7 linked regions of the Homo sapiens genome follow. The protein of the gene in region 6 purifies or fractionates together with the protein of the main gene of each other region. This does not show direct contact. Each region holds a gene or a part of one and is shown on either strand. Other genes may lie near its edges.

Region 1 (3,141 bases), on a different chromosome or scaffold from region 6:
CTCATTCATTCATTCACTCACTCGCTCACTCATTCATTCATTCATTCATTCATTCATTCATAGCTCACTGCAGCCTTCGGCTCCTGGGCTCAAGCAATCCTCCCACCTCAGCCTCCTGAGTACCTGAGACTACAGGCGTGCACCACCACGCCCAGCTAACTTTTGTATTTTTGAAGAGACGCGGTCTCACCATGCTGCCCAGGCTGCACCCTCCCCGCCCTCAACAATATCTTTTCCCTCCACCTTTCCTGGTATTAGAACCCCGACTCGGGAGGCACACGGCCGTTCAGAAAGGACTACATTTCCCAGGGTTCCTTGCGGCAGGAGCAGGGCCATGTGATTATATTCTGGCCAATGGGATGAGGGCAAAGGCCGGTCTATGCCCTCCAAGAAGAGGCGTGCACTTCCCGCTTCCTGTTCCCTTTTGCGGGAGCGGGAGCCACGTGTTTTATAACAAATAGCCAGGCAGAAGGTGTCCCAGAAGACAATGGCGCTGCGGAAGCATTCAATAAATATTTATTATAATTAAAAGACCGTAGCAATACCCCCACCACCAAGACCCTTCACCCAGAAATAGAGAGATTGGAATTGTAAACACCGTATCCAGTTCTGACCACCCTGAAAGCCAGGGCATCATCGCGCCCGTTTTGTCCTAAATGAAGGGCTCCCGGACAATGTCCTGAAAGTGGCAGATGACCTCATCTTCCACTGTCCACAGGGCACAGGGCAGACCGGGGTGCTCTATGGGGTCCTGGCCGATGCCTGGGTCCAGGGGTGTTCCCCAGGTGGTCAGGCAAGGACACGCGGTCATTCTGCCTCCTGCGTCTTGTCCTCGGGCGCCTGGGACCCTCTCTGGTTCCACATGTGGTTGTTCAGCCCCAGCTGTACCATCTGTGCGTGGTGGATAATGAGGGGTTGCAGCCCTGGGCTCTGAGGGGGTGCGGGTGAGGCCGTAGGGAAGGCTGGGGACTGCGGGAAGGGCAGTGACTGTGGAAAGGCTGCTGGCTGTGGGGAGGGCGGTGGGGGGGTGCCAGCCTGCCATGCGTGCAGGGGTGGCGGCTGCGGGCACCCCGGCCAAGTGGGAAAGGGTGGCGGGGCTCCCAGGGGCACCTGGCCCCCAAAGGGCATTCGAGCCCCATAGGGCGCCCCAGTCCCAAATGACATGTGGCTCCCAAAAGCCACCTGGAGCTGCTCCATCTGTGCCTGGTAGGACAAGTAGCTCTGGAGGTAGGCTGAGTAGGCTGCGTTCAGTGCCGCCGCCTGCATCCGCTCACCGTCCAGGTGTTGGCTCTGTTCCCGCAGGGCTCGGGTGTCCTGTTCCTTCCTCCACATGGCCTTTCGGGCCTGAAGCCTGTGGGGCTTGAAGGTGTTGGCCACCTTCCTGGCGAAGATCTGGGAGTGTTCGTCCAGCCGCACCAGCCCGGAGAGCAGGCTGGCCGTGTCGGAGCTGAGCTGGGCCGGGGAGCTCTCCAGGGGCAGGAAGGGGATGACACAGTCTGGCGACCCCTGTCGCGTGAGGTTGCTCATCATGGCTTGGTTCACCTGGTGCAGGCTCAGGCGACAGTCGAAGTTGGAGGTGAGAAGTAGGATGATGAAAGCTGAGTGGTCTATGGCGTCCTGCAGGCAGCTCAGCTCCCCGCGCCCCGGCACCTGGAAATCCTCGCAGAAGGTGGCCCCGTCGGGCACGCCAAGGGCCTCCAGCTTCTCCCGAACCCGCAGGGCGATGTGTTCGTCTGCCCTGGCGTGGAGGATCACAAAGTTATAGAATTTCTGTTCCGATGATGATTCCAGGGAGGAAGGGAACAGGGAGGAGGGGGTCAGGTGAGCTGAACAAGGAGTAGATGAAGGAGGAGGAGGAGGAGGAGGAGGGGATGTTTCTGGGGTGGTGGGAGTAGGTGGGCACGGCTTGGTATTTGGAGAGGTGGTATCTTCTACAGAAAGTTGGAGTGGCGTCTGGTCTTTGACAGAGCAGGGGTTTTTGACCGGCTCCAGAATAGGCAAGGGGAGAGACTGGGGGCCTGCAGACCCCTCGGTGCACTCCACTGGGTAGTTGGTGCTGGTTTCTGGAGCTGCGGGGGTATCAGGGAGGCCAGTGGAGGTTGCATCTGGGGCCACTTCGGGAAGCCCAGGAGGTGGGCTGCTTGGCAGCTCTGGTGGGCTGGCAATCTCCCCCGATGGCGGCCAGCTCATCTCCTCAGGCTCCTGGCAGCCACCGGGGACAGGCTCGGGCACCAAGCTGGCCTGGGGGTCGTCACAGAGCTTGCTGGGCCCATGTGGGCTGCGGTGCAGGCTGAGGAAGGGCATGGTAGGGGACTGGCTGATTTCCAAGTTGCTGGCCAGGGAGGCAGGGCTGCCAGTGGATCGCAGGGAGCACCCTTGGCTCCAGTCCGAAACACCGTCAATGGGGCGTGGGAGGCTCCTGGTCCCAGAGGGCAAAGCCGAGGATGGTGGGAGGCAGCCCAGATTGGACTGGAGCGTCCGGATGCTCCCTGGATCCCCAGCAATGTCCCACCCACACCGGTTTCGGGCCTCATCCTGAAGTTCCCCCAGCCGGTGGTCGTCCCTGGAGCTGAGGGTGCGGACGGCTTCCTGGTAGGCCACGTCCCGCAGCGAGGCGGGGCACAGCTTCTCCTCAGCCAGCAGGTGGTACAAGCGGGCCACAGCCCAGGACACATCTGGGGGCTCCTCTGGGTCCTCGGTGCTGTCCACGCCAGCCCACTGGCGGGCCACCAGCCGGGCCACCGCATCGGCCTTCAATGCCTCTAGAGAGATCCTGGCCTCAGTTTCCTGGCCCAGCTTCAGGAGAACCATGGCATGCAGGAGGTCCTGCCCCTGGCAGCCTGGGCGTGGGGTCTTCAGTTTGTGCTTCAGATACAAGAGCTTGTCCTGGCCTGCTGCACCTAGAATGTCGAAGGCGCTAGGAAGTGATGGGCCTGTGCAGGCCATGGGCACAGGTGGGTGCAGCCTCCGGCAGCAGAAGCTGGAGGTGGTGAAGGCATGTTCCACACTGCCCCCCGCCTTCTGCACGCCCAGTGTCCCCTACCCATTCACTGTTCCAGGTTCTGCAGGAGCTGCCCAAGCAGATCTGTAGGAAACAGGAGAAGCAAACACACTTACCCCCAAGAAAGGTCAGCACGGGAA
Region 2 (3,500 bases), on a different chromosome or scaffold from region 6:
ATATGATACAGTGCCAGGCATGAAGCACTCAATAAATGGTAGCTATTATTATTTTTCCATACTTTCTTCAAATATCTAAATTCTAACCAAGCTGGATTGTCTTCTTTTACTCCTTCCTCCCCTCCCACCTTCTTCTTTAATATTTGGATCCACTGCTTCTCAACTCTTTTAGGATCAAAAATCCATTTCTAAATGTGACTAAAAAAAAAAAAAGACTATGTACCCAGAAAAATGCATATTTGCATAGAGACCTTTCACATATGTTAGAGTTTCTACCCCCTGAAGCCCATTCAGATTAATAATGGGATGAGAATCCCTCCTTTAAGACAAGTTACACCTAAGCTAATGCTGAATCTTTTATACAAAAAGGACTGAAATAAGCTTCAGTTGCATCTCAGAAGAAATATAAACTCACTATCCTAGAGTTGAAAGAAATGAAAGGAATGAAGAAAGATGGGGAGGAGGCCACAGAAATTTGTTTCTACCTCACTTCTCCCCTTCTCCATATCAGAACCATTAATGCCACGGCAGGCCTTACCCTTAAAAAGAAAGCAGAACAGAGGTTATGGTGGCTACCTAGAAAAGGGTTAACACAGCAGGCCTGAGACTACTGTCCTTAAAAAGGCCTGCCTGTCTTTGGCTGGTATCTGAAAACTTAACTGGTAAACAGTTCCCTACACTGATATAAACCTTTCCTTATATAACAGTGGCTCACTACTGAAGTAATGTGGTTTAATTATAACATATGCTTTCCTTTTGGGAGTATGAAATAATTTTGGTACATGAGGGTGCCGAAATGACTAACCTCCGATGAAAACCTTAGGAGCTGAGTCTCTAACAAGCAGCTTGTTGCTGGAGGAATTAAATGTGCCCAGTAGAGTCTACTGGGAATGAACTAGTGGAAAAACGTGAGCCTGGTTTCCTTCAGACTTCATACCATGTACCATTTCCTTTTGTGATTTTGCTTTATCCTTTCATTGTAATAAATCTTAGTTGTAAGGTGTTTTTTTGTTGTTGTTGTTGTTTTTTTAAATAACAAATCCCTATCACAGCTGGAGCTTTTACAAAGAATCTATTCTCGCAACAAAGAATTTGACCTCACCCTGCTTGGACTGGCTACATTTTTCTCTGCCAGGTCTACTTTGGTCAAAACGAATATGGTTCTCCTTCCATGAGGGTCCATTTGACTGACCAAGTCTGTAACAATACTGCGTTCAGCATCCACAGATCCATCTGAAAAAAATAAAAAAATGACACTGTGGAATTTTAAGATGTAAAGTAGACTTTTAAAACTCAGTACAAATTATACCCCTGTGTCTACATTATAGCAAGAAAGATTTTAATACATTTACGTTATTTACTAAAAAGAAATCCTAGCCGATAAAAATTTCAATGATGCTTATGTAAAACTTATCAAAATAATTTCAACTTCAATTTAATTTACTAATAAAATGAATACGAAGAGAAGGCAAAAATGCATTTATCTTGTATGTTTACATAACACAAACTATTTAATGCAAAGCTTGGATTGCTAAAGAAGAAAACATATCAGTACATTAAAATCTTTTGATATGATTTACCTTGAATACACAGTATGATGGCATTAGGATTCTGCATGTAAGCTTTGCTGATACTGAAAATAGTTTCCTTTGTGTCAGGAGCCATGCCTGATGTCACAGTCTTAAAGAAAAAGGTTTTAAATGTCATTATAAATGCTTCACACAATAAGAATAAAATAAAATACATGTTTTGTATATACTTACATTAATCACACCTGGTAAGTCAACAAGCACCATCCTCTGTAGTCCAGGGCCTTTTACATTTAAGGATATGGTCTACTCAGGAAAAATAAAAATAAAACAATGCTAAAGTTTGGGGGGAATTTGTCAAGAATTTTTTTTGGTGAAATGTATTCTAAAAATTCTATATCTCATCCATTCAGATAAGACGCTCACAAAAATGGTATTCTTTCTCTGATCCTAAAAGTAATTATTCTGGAAAATTACCCACAAAATGATATATTATTTGGATTTTTTTTTAAAAGCTCTACATATCTAGATAGCAGCAATCTAAACATCAATACCTAGATTTTGATTTATTTGAAATCATAAACATTTAATTTCCATAAAACGTCACTGAAATGAATTGCAACCCTTACCTCAGGGCTAACGGTACAGCCTTCTTTCACATTTTTCCTCATTCGAAGTTCTATTTCATGTCTTAATGCTGCAAGCTAATGGAAAACACAAAATCCTAAGAAAATCTAAGAAAATCTTAATTCACAAATATTCTTTAACTGTCTTTTATAAGCTCATCCAGGTTATAAAATTACACATATCAACCTTAGATGAATTTTACTTACATCTTCTTCTTTGGTAAGATCAAACTCCCGAGAACTATCTTTAAATAGGGCCACATGGTGAGGACCTTCACTCAGAGTCACCTGATAGTAACAGAAAACTGAGAGGTAATGATGTATTTATAAGTAATATTAATTCCCACAGCCCGTATGTGGTCTAGACAGGGCTACTGCATTGCACAAATCCAAGAGTCCCTTCACACTACTGCTGGGGCACCCCCTGAAGCTGTCAACATGGTAGTTCTGACAAGACAATAATTTTGTATTTGTATTGTTTGTATATATGTCATATATGTTGTGATTTCCCAACAAGAATGCTGGTTCCTTTATATCGCTTATGACCTAAAATGCTGCTGCCTCTTTCTTTCCCCAGTCAATGCTATACACAGCACTAAGCCCAAAATCATCTCTCTAAAACTTGAAACACTAAAAGGAAACCTTGCATTTAACCTCAAAGATGAATTTAGGTAAAGGACAATTCATTCATTCAACCTCTATAGAGAGTGAACTATGTGTCAGGTGTTGTAGGTGGGGAAACACAGAGCTGACTGTCCCAGTTTTAGACCTCATCACATGCTGGGAGAAATATACACAGACATAATAGAAGAGAGTGACAAAACCTAGGGTGCCACAGAAGAGAATGGAACTGATGATAAGGGAGCTACGACAGGCTTCACTCAAGGAGTGATATTTGGGTAAGAAATTTTGTTTTGTTTGTTTTTTTGTTTGTTTTGAGACCGAGTCTCATTCTGTCGCCCAGGCTGAAGTGCAGTGGCATGATCTCGGCTCACTGCAACCTCCACTTCGCGGTTTCAGGTGATTCTCCTGCCTCAGCCTCCCGAGTAGCTGGGATTACAGATGCCCGCCACCACACCTGGCAAGTTTTTTGTACTTTTAGTAGAGACAGGGTTTCGCCATGTTGGCCAGGCTGGTCTTGAACTCTTGACCTCAGGTGATCCGCCCTCCTCAGCCTCCCAAAGTGCTGGGATTACAGGCATGAGCCACTGCACCCAGCCAAGAAATGTTATAGCAATGTATATTAACAGTCAGTGGTTTCACAAGAACTTCTAAATGCCTAATTGACACCTTTCTAGCTTCTCTATAGTTATTTTACTTTAAAAATACAATTCCTTCTACTGAG
Region 3 (3,500 bases), on a different chromosome or scaffold from region 6:
TTAGCACCCCCAATCTAGGGACTGATTTGCCAAAGCTCTAGCCATTAATGTTGTCCTAGAGTGCCTATGAAGTTGAAAGTGCAGACAATAGCTTTATTTAGCTTGGAGGAAGCTAAGAAGATCAAATCAGCTGGGAAAAGCCTATGACCTTAGAGACCTAGTCCAGAGGTGTCTGGTTATAAACTCAAAGGAAATAAAGGTATTTCTTTGGACATAGCAATCTTTAGTGATTGATTTTTTTCTAATAAGTTCCTTTTTTTTTTTTGCCATAGATAAAGCCAAAGACCAGACACATTTCAACGCCACGACAGTCACCTGGTGACTGAACTATCGAAAAGATCAGCATATTAGGGGAAAGGTTAATCTGCTCTGTTGATCAGCTATTAGGAACCTACTCCACCACCATATTCCTTTCCACCCTACAGACTCAGTTTTCCAATTCCATAGCCTAGGTACCATTTAGTGTGTAGATAATATATGTTAGGCACCTTTGTACCCATAGCTGAAGTTACATGGAGGGTGTGTTCCAGTTCTATCTCATAACCCCTCTTTCTTGCTCCTCACCTTGTGAGCAGCAATAGCTTCCTTCTGCATGTTCCTCAGGGTCTGAAGCTCCTTCAGAGTTGTCTCCAGTTGACCCTGTTGGATGGCAAGCTCCTCCTGGGAATATCAAATAGAATTAACCCAGACTAACTCGGGAGATGAAGGACCATAAAGGACATCTTCCCCAAGGCCCCAGTGTGCAAGAAAAAAGCAAGCTCTTGCTGCAAAAATCTTCCCCTTCCCCTGTATCATAGTTCTTGTCTCGTTCAAGAATTGTGAAAAAGAAAAGAAAAGGCCGGGTGTGGCAGCTCACATCTGTAATCTCAGCACTTTGGGAGACTGAGATGGGAGGATCACTTGGGCCCAGGAGTTTGAGACCAGCCTGGGCAACATAGTGAGACCCATCTCAAAACAAAGAAAAAAAAAGAATTATGGAGTAAATTACAGCTTAAAACTTAGTTTTTCTCTCTTAGTAGCTAGCTACAGGGATTTGAAGAAGGGAATAGAACTCTACACATTTTCCACTCTAGTTATATACTGTTCTCAGCATCTATCATTTTACTTGTGTTGTTCTCACTTGGAACATTTGTTTCTTCCTTCTGCCCTTCAAAATCCAAATGATTTCCCAGTTCAAGTCCTTTCCCTTTCTTTCACTATATGTCCCCTATTTCATTTTTCTCTAATAGTCTCAGAAATTCTAAACCCTTAAGAATTACAAATGTGACAAAATTTAACTTTTAACACGAGGCTATCTTAATATTGCTTCTGTTGTTTTCTTCATTTTAAACTTAACCAAATTTTGAATTTTTTATAACAAGAGCAATATCTTATCTATCCATATTCTACACAGTGTTTAGCAGAGTGCTACCATGGCAGAGTTTAGGTACAGATTTGATTGAGGGAGTAAGCCAGGGCTCCTCCACTGTTCCTTTCCTATAAGCAGCAACTCTAGAAAAAGAACTTTGCAAGATACGTTGTACTTTCTGAGCAGTCTGGGCTTTCTAATCATCATTTGAATAAAGGGATGGGGTTGGAAGAAAGAAGAAGCCCTATGAAATATTTTTCCTAGTTTTTCTAAGGGATTGTTCAAGGCCCAGGGCTCACCCACCGTGAAGAAATGGACAGCATCAGAGATTTGCAGGAACTCCTTAGACTGCCCCACAGACAACCGAGCATCCTTGCATTGAAAGCAGATCAGTTTCCCATCTGGTTTACTGAACAGTTTCAGGTTCTCTCCATGCTCTGGGCACTGTGGATGGCCCTTGAGTAAGGGTAACTTCTTAATCTTCTCTACCAACTTGTCCAGTACAGGGTTGAATGTACAGTTGTTATACTGACATAGCATCTTACACTCAGGACAGAATGTTTCCTTTGCTTGCAGCCTCCAAAAGTCTTGGATACAGGCTTCACAGAAGTTGTGGCCACAGCTTAGCATCAGTGGGTCTCGGAACCAATCATTGCACAGAGGGCAGTGTAGCTCCATAGTAATATCTTGTATCACCACTTTAGAGGGTAGGTGGGTGATTGAATCATTCATTTCAACATAGTCGCCTGGATCGATGTTGGAGGAGGGGTTGGTGGATACCTTTAGAAAAGAACAGCTAAAATGAGTTTATCTTTCTTGTTGCCCATTTTAACACTCCAGGATGATGGCGCCATTCCTAAAGGAGCTGAAAATTGGTACAACTAAAGTAAAAGCACATAATCTCTCCTTTGAAAGTGAACCAGTAACTTGAGTGTTTTCTGAAATTATAGCGTATGATGCTATTTAAACTTTAATAAAGAATCAAGGCAGAGGAAGAAACAGTACTAAATCAAAGAAATGTACTTTGTTGTACATCTCTCTCTTTACCCACTTTCCCCAAGTGTCTTTTGAAAGTTTTATTTTTCAACTTCTGCTCTACTAGTTATTACCTTTATTTTATTTTTGTTTTCTAGAAATTATATACAAAGAATTGGAAAATCAATCAGATTCCTTAGTCAGTAGTGTGATATCGTCAACCATCCAGGGTCCCCTTCACTCCTTTTTAAAAAAACACATTTCAGGCCAGGCGCAGTGGCTCATGCCTGTAATCCCAGCATTTTGGGAGGCCAAGGCGGGCAGATCACGAGGTCAGGAGATTTAGACCATCCTGGCTAACACAGGATGGTTAGCCATCTCTACTAAAAATCTCTACTAAAAATACAAAAATTAGCTGGGTGTGGTGGCAGGCGCCTGTAATCCTAGCTACTTGGGAGGCTGAGGCAGAAGAATTGCTTGAACCCAGGAGGCAGAGGTTGCAGTAAGCCAAGACCACGCCATTGCACTCTAGCCTGGGCAACAACAATGACACTCCATCTCAGAAAAAAAAAAAAAAAAAGGAATGACCAACAATGAACTGAGCCTAAGAGATCCACAAGACACTATCAAACAGACATAATAAGAATTTCAGAAAGAAAGGAGAAAAATGCAGAAAGAATGTTTGAAGCAGCCGGGCACTGCGGCTCAAGCCTGTAATCCCAATACTTTGGGGTGCCGAGGCAGGTGGACCACCTGAGGTCAGGAGTTAGAGACCAGCCTGGCCAACATGGTGAAACCCTGTCTCTACTAAAAATACAAAAAATTAGCTGGTCATGGCGGCAGGCACTGGTAATCCCTGCTACTTGGGAGGTTGAGACAGGAGAATTGCTTGACCTGGGAGGTGGAGGTTATAGTAAGCTGAGATCACTCCACTGCACCCCAGCTTGGGCAACAAGAGTGAAACTCTGTCTCAAAAAAAAAAATTTTTGAAAAAGTAATGGCTGAAAACTTCCAAAATATGATGAAATTTTACATCCAAGAAGCTCAACAAACTCCAAGCAGGATAAATTCAAAGAGATCCACAATGAGACACATTATAATTGAAGTGTCCAATGACAAGGAAGGAATCTTGAAAGCAGCAAGAGAGAAATGACTCTTCACATACAAGGGATTCTCA
Region 4 (2,866 bases), on a different chromosome or scaffold from region 6:
GGCCACAAGTGGGCTAGGTATACTCTCAGAGGAATGCCTTTATTTGATCAGACAGGTCAGAATCTTCCAGGGAAAATATTAATTTGGGGAAAATAGATCAGAACCTACTTGTTATCAAATGGGAAATTGGCTTGAGTGTTGAGAAATACCCATTTTTATTGTTATCAGTGGTTTGTCATCCTCCCCACCTGAAACTACCCTACTGACACTCCCTATTGCCCTACTATCACCAAGTCAAAGAGCAATCTTGTTCCTCTATCATAGTTCTTCCTACTTAGAAGCTGAATTTCATACTAGGATACAGCCATCCAACTGGGTCTAAAAGGTCTCATAATGTGTGGAGAGAAACCAAATATAGAAAAGTTACTTCCAATTAACACCTCTAATCTCCAGATGTCCTAATAAAAACAGTGAGGCAACAAATGGCCACCCTCAAGCCAGAGAACCATACTTGGACTCAAATGTTTTTAAGAGCCAGGGAAAGTAGCTAACCTCCTCTTAATTTGATCTCCTGGCCTGGGACATATAAATGTTTAACTACACTCTGGCTTAGGGAGGAAAGCAAGCAGAGGTGAATGTATCCTGTAGTGGCATGGCTTCAACAGAGCATTTGTCTCACCCTGAAATATGAAGGAGCAATGCCTGCCTCCTCAAGCTGAGCAGTGCCCAGAATTTATGAACTTCAAGTATGATGTGAATCTGGGGTCCGAGCCAGGCATTATCATTGGGAAGTGGTGGACAATTTCCCTCTCCCTCCCTCCTCGTTTTCCTACTGCTGATTGTACTGTTCAGAAGTGAATCATGATTTAATCCCCTCTGCTGTTAAGAGTATTACAAAATGCTGGTTACAATGAAGTCACAAAAGTATTTACATAAAAGAAAAAAGACGGACAGAGAATGTTATAGCAAGTGACAAAACTCATCATTACCACCAGCAAAAAGATAGGTATGGAAAAATCCTTGCCTGGGTACCAAATGGGATGCAGCTGATTTAGACCATCTCTATATATAATCAGCGTGGCACATGTTTTTACAGTCATGCAGTGTTGAAAGCAGTGCATCATGGGAGAAAAGATAGTTCTAGTCACATGCATCTGGGTTTTTAAATCTTAGCGTCATCAGATCAGGGCCAGGTTACCCCAGAGTGCTCAATAATCCATGAGAAATGAATCCTATCTTCGTTCCAGGGCTTAGTATTGGCATTACACCATTATTAGATGCAAGCAATTCTTTGATTGATGGCTCCAACATGGATTAAGGTCAAAAGTGGCCCTGGAGACCAAATTCCCTAGTGAGGAACTGCCACATAACTTCATGTGTCTTTTGCTTCTGAATTATTTCTTCTAGAAACCACCAACCACAAGCTGTCACGCTGGTATTATATCTACATAACGTTTATTCTTCTTACAGCAAAGAGCTGGAGAAATACAAGTGAGAACCTGTTATTACAGGTTAAATTGTGTAACACTCAACTTGCGCTGAGGTCCAGTTTCTTTTTATTATGCTCCAATTTTGTTGAATGACTATTGCCTAAAATAAATGGGCAATCGACAGGGGCTTAGAACTAACAGGGATGCTTAAGTGACTTTTATGGTAGCAGTATTTGTTGTAACAGAATTTGATCTGTATTCTAGTTATTAGTTTTATTCATCACATTGGAAAGTTGGCACCTCCACTGTTCATGCCATTATATGCAAAGCACTGTAGCATGAAAGTCACTTACAAAGCTGTGAAAAAAACTCTCTGAACACCAGAGGCTCATGAAACAATAAAAGTCAGCTAGGGGGATATACACTGTTTGATTTAGCTAAATATTCTGGATGGTCAAAGGTTTATTCCTTTTAATTCCTAAAAGTTTTTTTTTTTAACCATTGGGATGTAAATATTTCTAAAATGTTTGATATACATATTTTTGTCTTCTAAGCATAGTTTTTTTATGTATGGTGCACAGGGTCATCATTTTAAATAGAATATTGTCCCATGATACAGTGAGGCTCTTAAAGATTGAGATGTGTATAGACTGTTTTTGACACTAAATAACCCATATATCAGGGCTTTGGAGCTTTGCAGTCTACTCAAAATTTCCATTTTCTCTATTGCTGTCCTCCTTTTTCCTTCTTGTTTCCTCTAAAAGTCTGTTTCTTTCCTTTACAGTTAGAAATATGTGTGAAGGAAGAGCAAATAGGTTCTGAGGAGGTGCCTGATGACTAGATGTATGGCCTTTGTCTTATGCGTTTGCTTCATGGTATTTATTTCAATTGGTTGGAAGCCTTGTTTGCTTACTTCTTAATTCTCAGTCACTTTTGATGGGTTCAGCAGAGGTTCTAGATTTTTCTAGTTCTGTCTCAGTTACTCATTGTCAAACCACTGGTTTAGATTTTGTGTTCAGGAAATAGGGATAGGTAAAGCTATCAGGTGGCTAAGCCCTAGGTAAATGAGTTGCCATGAATCCTAAAATATTGTGAAGGTTGTGGGCCATTTTTATAAGGCAAATGGTATGCTGTGGCCGTGACAGCTGAACTCAGTAAGTGAACTTTAAAACAGATAAGCTCCTTTTGCTGTTGTCCCTTTCCAAGAATATGAAGCTGGCCTGACGTCAAGCTGTTGGAGAGCCTTCAACATGTTTAATTAAATCACAGACTCAGTGTCAGAGCTGGCTGACTTTCAGGATTCTAACGCTATAGCAAAAGAAGACATGGTTTTGCCTCTCGTTGATTTTCTTATTTATGGCCTTGGAATAAAGAAGATAAAGCAAGTCTAACAGTTCTCCCTTCCAAAAGTACAGTTTCAGGCCAGAAGATTTGACTGCTACCCTTAGACTTTCTTTCCCTCACTGTACATTGCATTTTACAGGCTATACAAAGCA
Region 5 (3,500 bases), on a different chromosome or scaffold from region 6:
CCAAGCTGCGCATCCTATGCTACTTCCAGAGACTCAGCATACATGATAGCATCCTGAAGGGCCCGAGACGGCCGGCAGCTGACACACCTATTTCTCTTCAACCTCACATTTCTCAAACTTCTCTGGCCACAATCCTATTATTTTATATATATACATATACACTTTCTTTTGTTTTGGGGTTTTTTACTTTTTTTTTTAAGAGATAAGGTCTTACTCTGTCACCAGGTTAGAGTGCAGTGGCATGATCATAGCTCACTGCAACCTTGAACTATCAGGCTCTGGCGATCCTCCTGCCTCAGCCTCCCAAGTAGCTAGGACTACAGGCGCACACCACCACGTCAGGCTAATTTAAAAATTTTTTTGTAGAAATGGACATCTCTCTATGTTGCCCAGGCTGGTCTCAAACTCCTGGGCTCAGGCAATCCTCCCACCTCAGCCTCCCAAAGTGCTGGGATTACAGATGTAAGCCACTGCACCTGGCCTACATGATCTCTTGACACCCCACAAAATTAATGTTCCTCGAAAAGTTTTCAAAATGCTCCCAGAAGCAGTCTTCTCCTTTCCCTAAACTAAAAGAAAAGAAAAAAGACTAAGAAGCCCTCTATAATACTCTACCCCAACAAAAAATAACATTTCTTCCAGCAGATCTTCACTGTAACTTAAAAATTAGAGTGAGCTCGCTGGGGACGAGAGAGGTTAGTGGGATGAAGCTGACTTACCAGCCGGAGAGGGGTTCAGAGTTCGGGGCTCCGGGTCCGTATCACTGGGTTCAGAGATGCTTGCCCGCCTCACACGGACTCGGCTCTGAGGTTGGTGGAGGGAAGAAGTTCTGTGAAAGCCAAGCCTCCAGCCCTGCCATCCACGGCTGGCCATCCAACCTATCAAAGAAACCTTGACCACGTGCAAGCACAGTTCCTACCATTCCCTGCCCACTGTAGCCCAGAGTCCCCGGAGAGACACCCAACCGCAGGCACAAGGCAGCGGAGGACGCTGCTTACCTTAACCTTATGAAGCAGGGGCTGGGTCACAACACCCCCTGAGGAGAGGCTGTCACTCAGGTCAGGGCCACCTGAGGTTTCAGGAGTACTCCCCACTGGCCAGGGCAAAGGTGGGCCCATGGGGCTGAGCCCCAAGGATGTGTGAGTCTGGCACGTGACGACAGGAAGGAGAGAGAGGTTGGAGCCTGGGAGCACCTCTGCCTTGCCCAAGCCAGCCAAAAGGCGGGACCCTACTTTCCACTGACCAGGAAGACCCTGTCACCAGCCAGCCCTCTGTTCTCTCCCCAGCGCCCTCCCTTCGTGTCTTCCCCCAACAGTCCTCGCCCCCCAACCACACCGACCTGAAAATCTGTCAGTGACAAGACCTTGCCATCGAGAAGGAACTGAGCAAAGACAAAAAGGGGGAGGGAGTATGTGGTAGGCCCATCCTGCTGAGCTCCAGGTATTAAGAACACAGTAAGCAGGGTCCAGGTCCTTGGCCCCTCACCCAGGGATGGCAAGAGGGTGCAAGGTGGGGGAGGACTGGGCAGGAAAGGGGAAGAAGAGTGGACACAGGACGATCACTCACGCCAGTAGCAGCATCCCTGGCCCGGGGTGACAAGTACTGGGCAGTGGCTGCTCGGTGCTCAGGGTGGAACCAAAGAGGGTTCCCCTCCAGGTAGAGCTGAGGGGCAGGAAGGGGAGAATGAGGAGGGCCTGGGGCCCTGGCCCTCCCTGTGTGAAGAAGGCACTGACCAAACCAGCATGGGGGGGTACGTGCAAGGGTGGTTCCCAGGCCCCTGATGCATTCCCATCTCACCTTGCGGAGCTCAGCCAGCAGCCACAGTGGTGACAGCTCCCGGTGTCCTTCCAGCAGGTTGTATGCCAAATCCAGGTGCCGCAGATTCCTCAGCTGCTCTAGGCCTGGGGTGGACGCAAGAAGGAAGGAAGAGCATGTGGATGAGTACACGCAAGTGAGTGTGGTGCATGCACTGGGGGAGGTTGCAGCAGAAAGACCGGCCAGAGCACCCCTGCACTCCCCATAAGCCCTCTCAAGGCTCTAGAGGCACATGGTCCCCAGGCCAGCCCCAGCCTCACTCTCCCCCTTCCCCTCCATGCTTGCCCCATCACACACCCCCACTCACCATGCAGGCTCCGAAGCTCATTGCCTCGCAGTATCAGGACCCCCAGAGCAGCCCCTGAGGGTCCCATTCTTGGCACCAAATGCAGGCGATTATAGGAGATGTCCAGATGGTGGAGCTCACACAAATCCTGGCAGGGGTACAGGGGAGAAAAAGATTATCTCGTTGACCAAACTCTAGCCAGGGTCCTCTGAGACCTCTTCTGGACTAGGCCTCAACCTTGGCCTATATAAAACTGCACACACTCAGCACAAATGATTTCATCCACCCCTACTCCCACGTTAAAAGACTTGAACAACACCAGCACTGTTCCTAACAGTTCAAGGCCACACCCTGAGCATGGCAACTCCAAGCCCCTTAAATTCCTGCCTGGGAAAAGTCAAAGCTGCCAAAAGAATTTCCCATTTGTTTCAGCCAACTCCTGAAGATAGGGCCCCGTCTCCCAGTCTCTGTGAAAGGGTAAGGGCCTTATTTTGGTAAGTGCCAGTTAGTTAGCAAACTCAGATGGGTTTCATGTGGACCAACCTGATTTCCACTCCCCCAGCTCTGCTCAAGGCCCTACCATTCCCCTGCCCACTCCCCGCCGCCCTCTTTTAAAATGCCCAGCCGGCCAGGTGCAGTGGCTCATGCCTGTAATCCCAGCACTCTGGGAGGCCAAAGAGGGGGGATCACTTGAGGCCAGGAGTTCGAGACTCACCTGGCCAACATTGTGAAACCCCGTCTCTACTAAAAATACAAAAATTAGCTGGGCGTGGTGGCACACACTTGTAATCCCAGCTACTTGGGAGGCTGAGGCAGGAGAATCGCTTGAACCCGGGAGGCAGAGGTTACGGTGAGCCAAGATCGTGCCATTGCACTCCAGCCTGGGCAACAAGAGCGAAACTCTGTCTCATTAAAAAAAAAAAAAGGAAAAAAGTCCACTGACACTTCTGTATCTTCCAGGCTCTGTTCAGGGAAATAACCGTGACTGCAACACTGTCTATGCTATCACCACAAACATTCAAACTACAAACGAAGAAATCCATCGGTTGCCACTGCTATCCTCATTCCACCATCTAAAGAAACATAGAGCTCAACACCTAGAAATCTCAACTGGCTGCCCTCTGGACTCAGAAAATGGATTTATAGTCTGCTCCAACCATTCATCTTTGTTTCCCTTTTTGTTTCCATAGAAATGTCCCCCATTAAATGCCTGGTCACTCTCACCATCCAGCAAAATTCATCCACTACCAAGTCCCAATAAATGGCTCAGTTGGTTTTTAGTGAACAAAAGGTGATCAAGGAAGAAAAGGATTTATATTGTTCAGGGGAAAGAGGAGTGTCTCTTCTTTCCCTGAATTAGAGGAGGTTCTCACCTTGATCAAACCCTACTCAGGCTCCT
Region 6 (3,833 bases):
GATAAATGTCTTTGTCAGGGTCAACTGATGCCAATTAACTATTAGCTTTCATGTAATTCAGTATTTATACTATATTGTTTCTTTCCTCAACTCTGCTATACATGGTCTTCTACTTATTACTTCCCAGATTTATCATTTACATTTTTGCTCTTCTTTTAGGTTAAGAATTTAAAGATCCATCTGCAGAGCTGTTCTTTTACAATTTCCAGCTCAAATGGGCCCTCCTCTGTAAAGCCTTCTCTGATTGCTTCTAGGAAGAACAACCCTCCACTCCCCACCACCCTGCATTTTGGCATAACATTGTGTGTGTGTGTGTGTGTGTGTGTGTGTGTGTGTGTGTGTGTGTATTGACATGCCTCTCTTGCCAAAATGAATCTGAACTCCGTAACTTTGAGGGCACTTCTTGGTCATTTACTTCTGCAGCTTCATGTGCCTTTTCAACCACAGAGTAGCTTCTTCATAAATATTAGATGGCCAGATGAGTAAAATAAAGAACACTCTCAAGGAGAAAAAAGAAAGTGAGAACTTTATTTCCGTGTACTGAACTGCCAACAAAACTGAGAGGTAGATATTATCCCCATTTTAAGCCGAGACAAACAAGACAGATACCATAAGACAGGATCAGAACACAGATCTGTCTGATTCCCAAAGCTTTTGTTCTCTCTAATACATGAGAAGAAAGACAGGCACATTAATGGTCACATGCAGAAGCGGTTAATGGAGTTCACAGACAAGAAAGGAAGAAAGAGAGCAAGGAGAAAATGAACATCAAAAAATAAGGAAGTTGGAATACTGACAGGTCAAAGCAGAGAGAAAGACAAGACTTACTAAGCAAGAACTAACTTAGTGCACAATAAGAAAATGCAAAGGAAGGAAGATTGTGGTGACATTTAGAGAGCTTAGAATGGCAACAGAATTGAGCTTCAGATATTTGGAAGAGTTTTATTCAAAACCGTGGCAAGAGCCAGAAAAAGTAAAGGGCAGAGACAAGGGCCTGCAGCAGGCAAGGAGGAAGCATGATTTAGAGACAGATGCCACAGCTCAGGAAGGGAGCGGCTTGACCCTGCTGCTTGGAAAGGGGCATGCCTGGGAGTGCTGGCACTAAGGACACTGTTGGTTGCTATTTGCAGTGGCATAAGGATGAAGGATGATAGCAGCCCTATAGTGATATAAGGGACCATCATGAATGGCATTTCAAGAAAGAAAGCAGGAAGGAATGAGGAACCAGAGTTCTCTGTTTTTATCAATCCACAACTGTGAAATTTATGAAGAAAGTTTACTCTCAACTGACAAGCATTCACATATGGTAAGAGGCACAAGGGGTCGAATGGTACCTCTGTGACTAACAGTGTAGGAGCCTGGGAGATATCACTTTAAATGTCAAGTATGGGAAAGAAGAAAGAATAATTGCAAGGATTAGTCCACAAAAGTGCTTGAGTTTAGAGAAACTGTATTCTTCTCCTTTAAGATAATTAAAACTGACCAAGTATACACATTGCTGAAATAGAGGAGACTCCTGTAAGAATGACATATAGCTTAATTTAAAAGCTTTTGGAATATGTAGGCAAAATGGAAGATATTCTTGAGTTTATAACATGGGGCAAAAGAGAAACTCCTCCTTGGAGGAGTTTTCAATCTGTTATCATAATAACTCCTTGCATTTATGTAGCACTTCCCTAAATTTTATTGGAGGCTCTGTCTCATTTCATTCTCAAAACTTTCACAGAAGACAGCGTAAAAATAACGTTATCTCATAGATAAACAGAGACCAAAGAGCAAAGAGATCAAGAGATTTGCCTTTGTTCAACAGCCTGTTAGTGGTGGAGCCATTTCACTATCAATGTCTTGTTTCCACAGCCTTTCACCTATAACTCAATGGGGTTGATAGCTTAATCCTTTTCAGAAATGAGGGAACATGGGAAATATTATAAATACATGGATACATCATGACTTGACGAATGAGTCTCCCGTTTTGATATAGCATCATCAGGTTTAGAACGCTAAAACCACATGTTAAGGATGCTGGAAAATCTGGATGATGAAGTTACACCTCTAATCATAGAATAGAATTCCTGGAATGGACATTTACTCCAATTGCCACAATTTATAGGTAAGGAAACAGCCCTGGAGATGTGAACATGCTAGAATGTCAGAGAGCTGGCCTGACCCTCAGCAGCCGTTTGGTTCATTCCTTTCTGACTGCCAATCTTTCTTGTGACACCTTCAAAATTTTTCCAAATCTGCATACCTTTTATATAATTCATTTCATCCCGTTTTTTTCCTAAGTTGGCCCACATTTTAAACTTAAATATATTTTAAAGAGATAATTGATTCTTAGCTAGTCACAAAATTTATTATAAATAAAAGTAACCATGAAAATAAACATATAACCACTAAAGGTAATACATTCATCTGTCAACCACATAAAATCATCTTATTTACTAACATGTCACACTTTTGAAAATGCTGATCTGACCTAAATGTCCCATTTTACAAATGAGAGACCTGAGCCCAGAGGTGCGCTCCCGGTGGCAGACCTGAATCCTAAACCTCACTACCTCTATCGCTGTTCACTTATCTGATCTCAGCTGTTAATATGCCAGAAACTGGCAAAGGTATTCCCTGCCTTTAGTGGTGCTAGACTCTCAGGTGCTGAAACCACAGCTAATTCAGCCAAAGATGATGTGTAGAGAGGACTCAGAAGGCCCTATTAATAACTCAGCTGAGCACAGCACTAGCCAGATATTCATCCCCTGCCATTAATTTCAAAAGTGCTCTTTGCAAGCAGGAAAATTTTGACAGCAGGTGTTTCCCACTGGGGAGCAGTAGACTCCTCAGAAGACTCAGGGTCTCAGCTTAAAGACCAAAACTACTGAATTTCAACCGTCAGTGATCACTTCCCCAATTCCCCTCAACGATAAGGAAAAAGGAGTTTCTGGGAAGATTGGCAGTGGCCCAGCAAGTTTTCGCAAGGAAATCCTGTGTTTTTCAGAGGGGAAAGTCATTTTTGGAATCTTAGTACTCAAGGCAAGATGAATACTTAGCAAAAGTGGAGTTAAATTTTACTTTGATATATTTTGGACTGGAAACAAAAAACAACATCACATTGACAACAGATGCCTCAGAGAGTTTAGAAAAGACCACAACATTTTTCTGGTATATATTTATGTGGGGTCTCAGCTACCCAGGATGATAAAGAAGGGAAAATGACAACGTGATAGGTAGAAACTAGGAGAACTAAAATGATTGCATGGACACAACATCTAAATGGATGTAGTGAGCTCACCATCAAATAGGCCAATCCTAGTATCCCAAAGAGTCTGATCTAGTGGGATTGAGAAGAATCAACTATACAGTGTAAAATAAAAATACATTATCTGACCTTGCCTGGGCTATCATGAATCTTAGCAATAAATCTCAAGAACAAAACCAATAACCATATTAAATGTGGGTGGTTATTCTCCATTTTCCATTATAACAGTAATTCCCAAATCTGTCTGTGCACGAAAACTGGGAGAATATTTTAAAATATAAATTCCTTAGGACTAACCTCTGATATTGAACCAGAATTTCTAGCAATAAAGATCATAAAGATAGATAATTAGTACCTAGATACACAGACACATAGATAGCAGAATGAAAGTCATTAAGTGATTCTTAAGCCAAGCATTTGTTTAAAAGTGAGAGTTTGGGACCTGCTCAACTTTGTCATCTTCATATATGGTTTCCATTTTAATCGTTGTATTGAAATAAAATCAGCTGTAGACTGCCTGGAATTCTTTGTCAAAATGAAGTTTGCAAAAAGAGGCTAGAAGAAGATAGAAAAGATGTAA
Region 7 (3,500 bases), on a different chromosome or scaffold from region 6:
CGTATCAGTGGTTGGCCATACATGAGAAGGTTGCAGAGACCACGATACCCATCTTCACCTTTTCTAAGCTTAGACACGTGAGTGCTCTCGTGGTGGTCCCCTCACTGCCTGCAGTGTGCAGTGCACTAACAGCCGTACGGGCTTGCAGCCTGGGAGCAGGAGCTGCACTGTGCATCTTGGCTGTGGAGTTGGCTGTGCTGTTTGGGTTTGTGGAGTGCACACTGTGATGTTCACACAACAGTGCCATTACCTAACCAGGCACTTTCCAGAACACATCCTGGTCATTACACGATGCATGACTATTGATTTTGCACAAACTCCGTCAACGTGAGGCTAGGTCTCTCGTGCATGGATTAATTCCGCTAAAGCCCGGAGGAGGCCCCAGGGCAGCGCGTTCCCGGGCCCCCGGGCCCCATGAGAAGCGGCACCTACCTCGTCATCATGCACCAGCTCTTTCTTCACCACTTTCATGGCGTAAATTTGGTCATTCTTCTTCAACCGCACCAGGAGAACCTTGGCGTAGCTCCCGCGCCCGATGACTCTGATTAGGTCAAAGTCCTGCAGCCCAAGCCCCTGAGAGATTTTGATTCCATCCATCCCATCGATAACTGGCTTAAGGTCCTAGGGAGGGAGAACAAGACCCCAGAAAGTGAGAGGGGGGTTCCCGGGAGACTCAGAGGACCACGCATCACTCATGCGGTCCCAACAGAGACCTGCTCCTCAGAGCCCAGGGCCTCATGATTCGAGTCTCAGTTCTGCGTCCCACATATCCCACCCCCAAACTCCCATCTAAACTGGGGCATGAAAGGTAAGAATTTAAGGCTGTGTGCTTCTGAGGAAGGTGCTAGAAAGCTAGAAGCTGTTCGTTCCACAGACCATGGCTCTGGTCACAGCTGCAGGTGGGAGGGACCCCCAGGCCCTCAGCCCTATCAGTGGGGCTGAAGAGGTGGCCACAGGGACATGTGGCCCAGGGCCTGGGCCCATCCTTCCTGATCAGTGCCCTCCCTCAGGGGAAGGAAGGTAAAGCGAATGCAGCTAATGCCTGCCAAGAGCTCCCAAACCGGCAGGCACACATTATTAGAAATAATTATTAGAAATACCCAGGAGAAAGGCGCTCCGAGGAAGAACAGAAGCCTCTGCCTCCCGCAAGCTACACCTGGCAAGGAGGTCGGGGTGGAGGAGGCGGTTCCTTGGGAGGTGCTGTTCTGTGCGGCAAAATGGATTCTGCTTTTTTTTTTTTTTTTTTTTTGAGACGGAGTCTGGCTCTGTCGCCCAGGCTGGAGTGCAGTGGCACGATCTCGACTCACTACAAGCTCCACCTCCCGGGTTCACGCCATTCTCCTGCCTCAGCCTCCCCAGTAGCTGGGACTACAGGCGCCCGCCACCACGCCCAGCTTTTTTTTTTTTTGTATTTTTAGTAGAGACGGGGTTTCACCGTGTTAGCCAGGATGGTCTCCATCTCCTGACCTCGTGATCTGCCCGCCTCAGCTTCCCAAAGTGCTGGGATTACAGGCGTGAGCCACCGCGCCCAGCCGGATTCTGCTTTTTTTGAGACAGACTCTTCCTCTGTCGCCCAGGCTGGAGTGCAGTGGTGCGATCTCAGCTCACTGCAGCCTCCACCTCCCAGGCTCAGGCGATCCTCCCACCTCAGCCTCCCAAGCAGCTAGGACCACAGGCCCGTGCCACCATGCCCAGCTAATTATTTTGTATTTATTTTTGTAGGAACAGGGTCTCGCTATGCTGCCCAGGCTGTTCTCGAGCTCCTGGACTCAAGCGATGTGCGCAGCCTCCCAAAATGCTGGGATTGGAGGTGTGAGTCGCCGTGCTCAGCCTCAGATTCTGCTTTCTAAGTGCCCCGGCCTCCCTCCAGACACAGGATGGCCAGGAAGGAGCACGAGTTGTGAGGGTGACACTTGTTGGTGCTCTGGAAAGGAGTGGGCTTCGCTAGTGCAGTCCTTCCCTGGGTTTTACGAGCAGAGGCTGAGAACGCAGCAAGCTCTTCTGTTCCCTTCTCAGGGTTTATGGTGCAGAGCTGGCCACAGACGTGAGGCTCAGTTGAGCCTCTTGGCTCAAGTTGGGGAAGGACATGAAAGGGCTTCAGAGGGTTTGCCAGGATGGCCAAATGAGGCAACACAATTCGGAAGGCATGGTGCAGACACAACTTGATAAAAATTGCAGCTCAAAAGCCAGCCCCTGGGCCACTGTACCACCTGAATGGAGAGGATGTGGGGCACGGCTTCCCCCGCAGGGTGTGGTCCCCAGACCACCTGCGGGGACAGCTGCCTGCAGGTATTCATCAAGGACATGCCTGAAGTAAGACCCAAGAATAAGGACTTCCTTCTAGACATCCACACCCGTGAAGATTAGTTAGCAACACCCCGGACCATGTCTATTTCACATCTAGATTTCCGTGACTACCCCAGAGACAGGCTCACAGACTTTCCAGAGGACGTCGGAAATGGCAGCGAGCTGCTCCACACACTCACCTCCGAGTCGTCTTTAATGCTGTCATGCTTCCGGGATGAGGAAATGTAAGCAACTGGTGAGAGAGGGAGGAAGGAAGGGGCGTTACGGTGTGGTCAGGAACGCACTGGGAACACAGCGACCCTGTGGACCTTGCTCCTCTGCAGGGTGACGGTGAAGGGTGAATCCACACAGCAGCCATGTCTGATTCTAATTTAGAGTCTTCTGAAAATGCAGTTTCCTGGGCCCCACTCACACCTGCCGACTCTGACCATGGGACCTGGGGATGTACATTCGTGACATACGTCCCCAGGGGTCCATCTGCAAATAATTCGTCACCGGATTTTGGTGTCTAGTGAATGGGTGGGTAGGGGCAGGAGTGGATGTCTGGTGGATGGATGGAGGATGACTAGATGGGGGATGAATGGAGGCCTGGATAGAAGACGGATAGATGGAGAGGTCAGTGCACAATGGATGGATAGATGGAGAGGTCAGTGGACAATAGATGGATGGATAGATGGAGAGGTTAGTGGACAATAGATGGATGGATAGACGGAGAGGTCAGTGGACAATAGGTGGATAGATGGAGAGGTCAGTGGACAGTGGATGGACAGATGGAGAGGTCAGTGGACAATAGATGGATGGATAGATGGAGAGGTCAGTGGACAATAGATGGATAGATGGAGAGGTCAGTGGACAACAGATAGATGGATAGACGGAGAGGTCAGTGGACAACAGACGGAAAGATGGAGAGGTCAGTGGACAACAGACAGATGGGTGGACAGGTCAGTGGACAACAGACAGATGGATAGATGGAGACGTCAGTGGACAATAGATGGATGGATAGATGGAGAGGTCAGTAGACAATAGATGGATGGATAGATGGAGAGGTCAGTGGACAGTGGATGGATAGATGGAGAGGTCAGTGGACAATAGATGGATGGATAGATGGAGAGGTCAGTGGACAATAGATGGATAGATGGAGAGGTCAGTGGACAATAGATAGATGGATAGACGGAGAGGTCAGTGGACAACAG

What was found.
Region 1: the proteins of TLR4 (region 6) and TICAM1 purify together in Homo sapiens (affinity purification with western blotting; 3 studies listed by BioGRID). This does not show direct contact.
Region 2: the proteins of TLR4 (region 6) and OPA1 purify together in Homo sapiens (affinity purification with western blotting, with the first as the bait; one study listed by BioGRID). This does not show direct contact.
Region 3: the proteins of TLR4 (region 6) and TRIM69 purify together in Homo sapiens (affinity purification with western blotting, with the first as the bait; one study listed by BioGRID). This does not show direct contact.
Region 4: the proteins of TLR4 (region 6) and TRIM44 purify together in Homo sapiens (affinity purification with western blotting; one study listed by BioGRID). This does not show direct contact.
Region 5: the proteins of TLR4 (region 6) and STK11IP purify together in Homo sapiens (affinity purification with mass spectrometry; one large-scale study listed by BioGRID and IntAct). This does not show direct contact.
Region 7: the proteins of TLR4 (region 6) and PRKCZ purify together in Homo sapiens (affinity purification with western blotting, with the first as the bait; one study listed by BioGRID). This does not show direct contact.

The regions. Positions count from the first base shown.
Region 1 is NC_000019.10:4,815,432-4,818,572, forward strand, and holds the end of TICAM1 (TIR domain-containing adapter molecule 1), read right to left. Parts: intron 3,086-3,141; 5' UTR 3,048-3,085; coding exon of another isoform or gene 3,044-3,047; 5' UTR 2,947-3,043; coding exon 808-2,946; 3' UTR 501-807; downstream 1-500.
Region 2 is NC_000003.12:193,641,708-193,645,207, reverse strand, and holds part of OPA1 (dynamin-like GTPase OPA1, mitochondrial), read right to left. Parts: intron 2,444-3,500; coding exon 2,363-2,443; intron 2,234-2,362; coding exon 2,159-2,233; intron 1,836-2,158; coding exon 1,764-1,835; intron 1,681-1,763; coding exon 1,581-1,680; intron 1,234-1,580; coding exon 1,103-1,233; intron 1-1,102. UniProt on the Homo sapiens protein: Dynamin-related GTPase that is essential for normal mitochondrial morphology by mediating fusion of the mitochondrial inner membranes, regulating cristae morphology and maintaining respiratory chain function.
Region 3 is NC_000015.10:44,753,528-44,757,027, reverse strand, and holds part of TRIM69 (E3 ubiquitin-protein ligase TRIM69), read right to left. Parts: intron 2,129-3,500; coding exon 1,652-2,128; intron 661-1,651; coding exon 565-660; intron 1-564.
Region 4 is NC_000011.10:35,812,775-35,815,640, reverse strand, and holds part of TRIM44 (tripartite motif-containing protein 44), read right to left. Parts: 3' UTR 1-2,866. UniProt on the Homo sapiens protein: May play a role in the process of differentiation and maturation of neuronal cells. May regulate the activity of TRIM17. Is a negative regulator of PAX6 expression.
Region 5 is NC_000002.12:219,604,357-219,607,856, reverse strand, and holds part of STK11IP (serine/threonine-protein kinase 11-interacting protein), read right to left. Parts: intron 2,250-3,500; coding exon 2,123-2,249; intron 1,902-2,122; coding exon 1,798-1,901; intron 1,663-1,797; coding exon 1,567-1,662; intron 1,382-1,566; coding exon 1,340-1,381; intron 1,146-1,339; coding exon 999-1,145; intron 879-998; exon of another isoform or gene 874-878; coding exon of another isoform or gene 805-873; coding exon 720-804; intron 1-719. UniProt on the Homo sapiens protein: May regulate STK11/LKB1 function by controlling its subcellular localization.
Region 6 is NC_000009.12:117,721,403-117,725,235, reverse strand, and holds the end of TLR4 (toll-like receptor 4 isoform A precursor), read right to left. Parts: 3' UTR 501-3,833; downstream 1-500.
Region 7 is NC_000001.11:2,147,911-2,151,410, reverse strand, and holds part of PRKCZ (protein kinase C zeta type), read right to left. Parts: intron 2,540-3,500; coding exon 2,487-2,539; intron 622-2,486; coding exon 433-621; intron 1-432. UniProt on the Homo sapiens protein: Calcium- and diacylglycerol-independent serine/threonine-protein kinase that functions in phosphatidylinositol 3-kinase (PI3K) pathway and mitogen-activated protein (MAP) kinase cascade, and is involved in NF-kappa-B activation, mitogenic signaling, cell proliferation, cell polarity, inflammatory response and maintenance of long-term potentiation (LTP).